2 linked regions of the Homo sapiens genome follow. Changing the gene in region 1 together with any one later gene gives a genetic interaction. Each region holds a gene or a part of one and is shown in the gene's direction. Other genes may lie near its edges. The genes, in order: COPZ1 and EGFR.

Evidence for each region.
Region 2: changes in COPZ1 (region 1) and EGFR together harm fitness more than expected from each alone (negative genetic interaction), as found in Homo sapiens cells (one large-scale study listed by BioGRID).

Annotation. Positions count from the first base shown.
Region 1 is NC_000012.12:54,345,487-54,349,301, forward strand, and holds part of COPZ1 (coatomer subunit zeta-1), read left to right. Parts: coding exon 1-29; intron 30-2,280; coding exon 2,281-2,358; intron 2,359-2,513; coding exon 2,514-2,565; intron 2,566-3,815. UniProt on the Homo sapiens protein: The coatomer is a cytosolic protein complex that binds to dilysine motifs and reversibly associates with Golgi non-clathrin-coated vesicles, which further mediate biosynthetic protein transport from the ER, via the Golgi up to the trans Golgi network.
Region 2 is NC_000007.14:55,154,860-55,158,674, forward strand, and holds part of EGFR (epidermal growth factor receptor isoform a precursor), read left to right. Parts: intron 1-970; coding exon 971-1,087; intron 1,088-1,673; coding exon 1,674-1,800; intron 1,801-1,899; coding exon 1,900-1,973; coding exon of another isoform or gene 1,974-1,984; exon of another isoform or gene 1,985-2,080; intron 2,081-2,803; coding exon 2,804-2,894; intron 2,895-3,815. UniProt on the Homo sapiens protein: Receptor tyrosine kinase binding ligands of the EGF family and activating several signaling cascades to convert extracellular cues into appropriate cellular responses.

The DNA of each region.
Region 1 (3,815 bases):
CTCTTCGACTCATTGAGCCAGATGCTGAGGTGAGCAGGACATTCTTTTTTTTCCCCTCAAGTTATGATGGAAAGAGCAGGGCATTGTTGATTTCTTTTTGGGAGATAAAGTAACCATTCTTCAGGCCCAGGGATTGTAGGGGATTGGCAAAGGCTCCAGGGAGTTGATTTAGTTTTAGAAGTTGGGTTTTGCCGGGCTCAGTGGCTCACGTTCGTAATCCCAGTACTTTGGGAGGCCAAGGCGGGCGGATCATGAGGTCAGGAGATTGAGACCATCCTGGTTAACATGGGGAAACCCTGTCTCCACTAAAAATACAAAAAATTAGCCGGGCATGGTAGCGGGCGCCTGTAGTCCCAGGTGCTTGGGAGGCTGAGGCAGGCGAATGGCATGAACCTGGGAGGCGGAGCTTGCAGTGAGCCGAGATCGCGCCACTGCACTCCAGCCTTGGCGACAGAGTGAGACTCTGTCTCAAAAAAAAAAAAAAAAGTTGGGTTTATTAATTCACAGTAATTCATGCTACTGGGGAGGACTGGATGGAGAGTATGTCCCTCCCATAGAATAATTCTCTTACTAAGTAAGGGGACTGGGAGGGAGCCGAATCTTTACCTCTGTGTTTACTCTTGTAATCCCCTGTGGTCCTGTCAGATCTGAGCATCCTCAAGGTGCTTTCCTGGGCTTCATTCTTGACATTAGAAGTAGGGAAAGGCCAAGCATAAGGAAGTGTCCCAGATGAAATGTCATTCAGTACTTCAGGAATGGAAGCAACACTCCCAATTTTTTTTTCTTTTTTTTTTTTTTTGAGATGGAGTCTCACTCTGTCACCCAGGCTGGAGTGCAGTGGCGTGATCTCGGCTCACTGCAACCTCTGCCTCCCAGGTTCAAGCGATTCTCCTGCCTCAGCCTCCCGAGTAGAGTAGCTGCAATTATAGGCACGTGCCACCACGCCTGGCTAATTTTTGTATTTTTAGTGGAGACAGGGTTTTACCATGTTGGCCAGGCTGGTCTTGAACTCCTGACCTCAAATGATCCACCTACCTTGGCCTCCCAAAGTGCTGGGATTATAGGCATGAGCCACTTAGACCAGTTTTTTTTTGACTTCTAGTCCTTGTTTTTTCCCTTCTGTAGAACAGGAAGCACCCAGGCAGGAGGACTGCATGAGTCGAGTTCAAGACAAGCTTGGGCAACACAGTGAGACCCTGTCTCTGCAAAAAATAAAAAAATTAGCCAGGTGTGGTGGTGCATACCTGTAGTCTCAGCTACTTGGGAGGCTGAGGTAGGAAGATTGCTTGAGCCCAGGAGGTTGAGGCTGCAGTGAGCTGTGATCATGCTACTGCACTCCAGCCTAGGTGACATAGCAAGACCCTGTCTCAAAAAACAAAACAAAACAAAAAACAGGAAGCTTCTGCCATTTACCCTCTCCTCCCTTTCCACCTTCCCACTAGCCCTCTGTTCTCTGTTACCCGTGTAGATGGGTAATAGAAGAGATATAAGTTACTTTTCCTGAAAACATCCAGGGCTCTGAACTTCATTCCCCCAGCAGCTCCCAAGTGAACCCAGTACAGACAGCCATCCAGACCAGAACAGCAGGCACTCTCAGCCCTGCAAAATCAGCAGGGTGAATGGCTCAGATTTCCTCAGGAAGGGGATGATTTATTTCTTATCCAGGTGAATGAATAGTAATTCATTCGGGTAATCTAGTGAAAGACTCAAACTGACAGATGTGACAGGCCACATGCACCAACCAACGGATCTGAGGCTGGTGTATGCAGACCCTGCCCCCTCTTTGGGCTTCTTTTCAGGGCCTGAGCAGAGCTGGTAAGGGATAGGGAGAAGAGGGAACAGAGAATGTCTCAGGAGGTTTGTCAGAGCTTGAGTACAAATAAGGTTTGCATTGAACCCCTCTCACCTCCGGCCACCTCCAGACTGAGTCTTAGCTCTGTTTATATTGTTTTTTTCCACCCACTGATGTCAGTGTTTATGAGCAATGTTATGAGCAGCATCATGGCAGGTAGGAAAGAAATAATAGCGTGGATAATCAACCCCTGAATAGTCAGAAATTGACTGTGTTATTTGAATCTCTTTCCATACATTCCTTATTCAGCAAACGAGTAGAAAGGGGTTTTGAGTGAACTAGCTAAAAAGTTCTTCACCTTATTTACTTCTTTGTGTGGTTGGTGGAGATGTTTATTGGTCTAGTTTAGGTTCCTCAATTGAGACAAGGTCCTAGGATTTCTTTCACATACAAGTTGGTTATTCTCTTCTCTTCTCTTGGGGACTCAGGAAAAATGTAGAAAAGCGAGCACTGCTGGAGAACATGGAGGGGCTGTTCTTGGCTGTGGATGAAATTGTAGATGGAGGGTAAGTTCTCTGACCTGCCTTGATCTTGGGTGAGGTGGCGGGATAACTGCCCCTGTCCTAAGTCAAGCAGGCTCAGTGGCCAGAGGTCCTGTTCCCCGACAGTGAGTTGGGCCTTCGGGACAGAGTGAACAATGATCTCTTCTTTGTTTTTGCAGGGTGATCCTAGAGAGTGATCCCCAGCAGGTGGTACACCGGGTGGCATTAAGGGTAAGCAAGAATGTGTTTCTTTGCATCCCCGCATCTATTCACAAACACCCTCCAGAGCCAGACCTGCTGGATGTGTCCAGTAGTTGGGGCTCATAGGATACATACAACCTTCTCTTTTTCTTTCAAATACATTCAGCCTTTCTCTTCCCTTCTCTTCTTATTGTCCCAAAGAAAGAAGCAGAAATAACTTATTTCTACCCCTAATATGGTGCCTAACATCTCATACAGTCTTTGCACAAAGTGGACATTTAATACATACTTATTTAATAAATGATAAAATAAACTTTAATATTTATGGTTTTGAAATTATAAAGCAACTTGAAGTTGGCTTATTCCCTTCTTGGAGATGGATCCAGTCATCTGAGGCAGAGGAGTGTCTGTTTTGTCTTTTAAAGTGTTACATAGGACTGAGCGTGGTGGCTCACACCTGTAATCCCAGCACTTTGGGAAGCCGAGGCTGGCGGATCACAAGGTCAGGAGTTCGAGACCAGCCTGACCAACATGGTGAAACCCTGTCTCTACTAAAGACACAAAAATTAGCTGGGCATGGTGGTGCGTGCCTGTGATCCCAGCTACTCAGGAGGCTAAGGCAGGAGAATTGCTTGAGCCCGGGAGGTGGAGGTTGCAGTGAGCCGAGATTGCACCACTGCACTCCAGCCTGGGCGACAGAGTGAGACTCTGTCTCAAAAAAAATAAATAAATAAAATAATAATAATAAAGTGTTACATAACTGAGGATGGTACCTCTCCATTAGGAAGTACTTATTTGCCAGAACCTCAGTCCTCTTTGGTGCTGGTGATATCAGAAAGGGGCCTCTGAGTTAACCATAGAAGGCCCCAGGTCAGCTGAGGAGATAATGGTGGATGCAGAGAGAGCCCACCAACAAATTATACGGGTGCAAAGATGTCTGAGCAAAGCAAATCTCCCCATTCACAGAATGTCCTGGCTCTGACCTCCACAGAGTGAAGGCTGACAGTGCTTGGTAATGGGAAATCTCTCTTAACTGCTGTGGGCTCCATTTGCATAGTTTAATCTTCTCCTCTAACATATGTCTCTGTGTGGCAAGAGAGAGGGTCCCCCCCATCAACTCCCCGCTTTGTCTTCTTAGGCTGCTGTTGCAGCAGTTTATTTCTTCAAATTAACATGCTGTCGTTACCCATCAGGCTTTGCGGGATCCATTAAACCACTCCTGGCTCCCCCTCATCCTTTCCCTAGTGATACTGATATTCAGAAAAGGCCTTTTCTGACTA
Region 2 (3,815 bases), on another chromosome or scaffold:
AGGGGGAGATTTTACCCTGCCAGATTTGTGTACATGAAAAATTTTACATTCCGTATGGAAAAAAAAAACACAAAATAATAAGCCATTATAAGGTAAATGACAAACAAAGCTAAAGAAAAATGTGCCACAGTGATGACACAGATATATCTTTGAGATAGGGCTTAACAGAGCTTTAAAATCCATAGGAAAACACTTCGAGCCTGAGATACCAAGAGCAGATGGTTCACAGAAGAATCATCAATGTCCTATAAATATTTTTGAGGATCTTCTTGGGGAACTTAAAACAGGAACAGGCCAGGCACAGTGGCTCATTGGCTCATGCCTTTAATCCCAGCACTTTGGGAGACTGAAGGGGCTGGATTGTCTGAGGTCAGGAGTTTGGGACCAGCCTGGCCAACAGGGTGAAACCTCGTCTCTACTAAAAATACAAAAATTAGCCGGGCGTGGTGGCGCACGCCTGTAATCACAGCCGCTCAGGAGGCTGAGGCAGGAGAATTGCTTTAACCCAGGAGGCGGAGGTTGCAGTGAGCTGAGATCACACCACTGCACTCCAGCCTGGGTGACAGAGCAAGACTCCATCTCAGACAAACAAAAAAGGAAGACATAGAGCTCCTAAAAATAACGCAGAAGTCTGCTATTAATACAAATGAATTACTTTAAAGGTGAGAGCAGGTGGAGGAGAGGGCTGAGGTGCCTGCTGGGACGCAAAACAGCTGGCCCCTCAAGGGACCCAGTGTTTCCTGCCATGATGAAACACCTGTATTGTCCACATTGCGGCCTAGAATGTTATTAAACTCTTGAACGGGATTCCTTCTCTATTTGCAACCTTTCATTCTTTGTCCTTAAAGTAAATAAAGCCAAAGGAGGATGGAGCCTTTCCATCACCCCTCAAGAGGACCTGGACCGCCTGTGTGAGGCCCGAGCACCTGGTGCCACCGTCATCACCTTCCTTTCATGCTCTCTTCCCCAGGTAATTATGTGGTGACAGATCACGGCTCGTGCGTCCGAGCCTGTGGGGCCGACAGCTATGAGATGGAGGAAGACGGCGTCCGCAAGTGTAAGAAGTGCGAAGGGCCTTGCCGCAAAGGTAGGAAGCCCGCCGGTGTGCGGACGAGGCTTGTTCTCGGCTGCTGAGGCTGGGCTCTCATGCCACCTCCAAAGGAACACATCTTCCTCTTCTCATTAAAAAACAACTATACATATCGTTTCTTTAAAACAGAAGATAAAGCTGTAAAGCTAGGTTAGGCAATGGGAAGGCACTGAAGGTTGTGACGGGGTGGGGGGCTCTGATGAGAACAGTCACAGAGCCAGCCCCGCTCAGCAGCTGCCAGGTGCCCAGCCCTGGGGAGAATCCAGGGAAGGCAGAGCTGGAAGCAGTGCAGCTCCAAGCGGCCCATGGGAAATAATGAGGAGAACGCAAGGTCAGTGTGAGGTGACAGGGATGGCATCTCCTACACCGCCGTAGCCCCAAAGTGTACTATAGGTCCTGGTGTCCCCCCTTCCCGCCTGCACTCTCCCCAGCCCCTTCAGTGTTTGTTGAGTGAATGAAGGATGATGTGGCAGTGGCGGTTCCGGTGACCGGAATTCCTTCCTGCTTCCCTCTGCCTGTGGATCCCTAGCTATTCTTAATCCAACAAATGTGAACGGAATACACGTCTCTCTTATCTCTGCAGTGTGTAACGGAATAGGTATTGGTGAATTTAAAGACTCACTCTCCATAAATGCTACGAATATTAAACACTTCAAAAACTGCACCTCCATCAGTGGCGATCTCCACATCCTGCCGGTGGCATTTAGGGGGTGAGTCACAGGTTCAGTTGCTTGTATAAAGAAAAACAAAATCTGCCTTTTTAACTGGTAGAGATTGGTGATCAATAATCACCCTGTTGTTTGTTTCAGTGACTCCTTCACACATACTCCTCCTCTGGATCCACAGGAACTGGATATTCTGAAAACCGTAAAGGAAATCACAGGTTTGAGCTGAATTATCACATGAATATAAATGGGAAATCAGTGTTTTAGAGAGAGAACTTTTCGACATATTTCCTGTTCCCTTGGAATAAAAACATTTCTTCTGAAATTTTACCGTTAATGGCTGATGTTTTGATATTTTTCAAAAGTGCAGTTTCTCCTGCAGGCAAAAGGGGACACGTTAAGTCCAGGCTTGGGTCATTCACTGCGGTGTAAACACGCTTTCTCCCTCCCGCCCGGCCCCAGCCAGCTGCCTTGGTGGCCCATAACCCCTGAGGGTAGAGGGAGGGGACAGGGGTAGGTGACAGGCAGCCTGGGCCTCAGGCTTTTGAAACTGGACGCCAGAGCCTTGTGGGGCCACGGGCAAGCCTCGGGTCTATGACTGCCGCCTGAGCTCCGCTTCCTTCCTCTCTAAAATGGGAAGATTAGACCAAAATAACAAGACTGTTTTAAGGTTGGAATCAAATAAGGAAAATTTGTAAAGCTCCTTGTATGTGATACCAGATCCACAATTGGCAGATAATCGCAGCAGGAGCCTCTTCGGGGTAATCAGATACGCGGCGCAGCAGGGGTCTCAGGGCCACAGCCAGGGGGGCGGCGGGAGACATGCGGAATCGCAGCGGAAGGCGGGAGGCAGCTGTGAACTGTGGCTCGGCCTGCGTCCGCCCTGCGCATGTACACTCAGAGAAGATGATAATGAAAAAGAAAGCAAATCCAATTTTCCCACTTACTGTTCATATAATACAGAGTCCCTGAGAGTCTAGAGTAATGTCTCATACAAAAAAGAAACTCCTACGTGGTGTGTGTCTGAAGTCTTTCATCTGCCTTACAGGGTTTTTGCTGATTCAGGCTTGGCCTGAAAACAGGACGGACCTCCATGCCTTTGAGAACCTAGAAATCATACGCGGCAGGACCAAGCAACAGTAAGTTGACCACAGCCAAAGCCTGGTAGATTACATTTGCCTTTTTAGTTGGAAATTAGGCTTAACAGGAGAGTTGCTAAGATAGGGCACAGAGCTCCTGCATCTCTCGCCGGCATTCCCAAATGCTATCTCACATGAGCAGGCACAGGGAGCAAGACTGCACGACCACTGGCACAGGCTGTCCGCTAAACCACAGACTTCTCAGCGCTCGCCAGTGCTTCTGCTTCTGTGTCCACTCCAGATCCCACATTGCACTTAGTTGTCAAATCTTTTCAGTCCATTTCTAACCTATATTAGCTCCTGTGTCTTTCCTTGTCTTTCACGGCCTTGACACTTACAAAACGTGTGGGTCAGGTACTTTGCACACTGTCTAACCATGTCTGTTCAGCTGGTGTTTTCTCAGGATGCAATTGAGGTTATGCACATCTTATCACAGGGACCAGAGAGACTTTTTAGCACCACTCTTCAAGAATTTCCACTTTTTCAGCTTTGACAGTGGAATAGACATGCAGGTGCTCACACACAAGCATCTTTAATATGGTAATGGTAATCATCAGTTTAGTGGTGTGGAGGAGGAGATGGGAATCTCTTAGTGAAACCCGCCTTGGAAGCAGCCTCGTTATGAGAACTGCTGCCCCTACTTGACTCTTAAAGCACTAGATAATACTGTGCAACATTAAAGAGAATAAGAGTGCGTGAAATATGCATTGCCTCCCATAAACTCCCTTGGCTCTGAATCTCTGATACTAAATATGTGGCTACCGTTGCTTCCCAGAAAGGCCTTTTTGCTCTGAATTCTCTGGAATGCTTTCTTTGACCAAGATTCTTATAAAAATAAGAGATTTAGAGCAATTTTCTTGGATGGCTGGTATGAGCCAGTTGGCTTAGTTGTAGGGATTTAAACAAGATAAGGGTTACTTA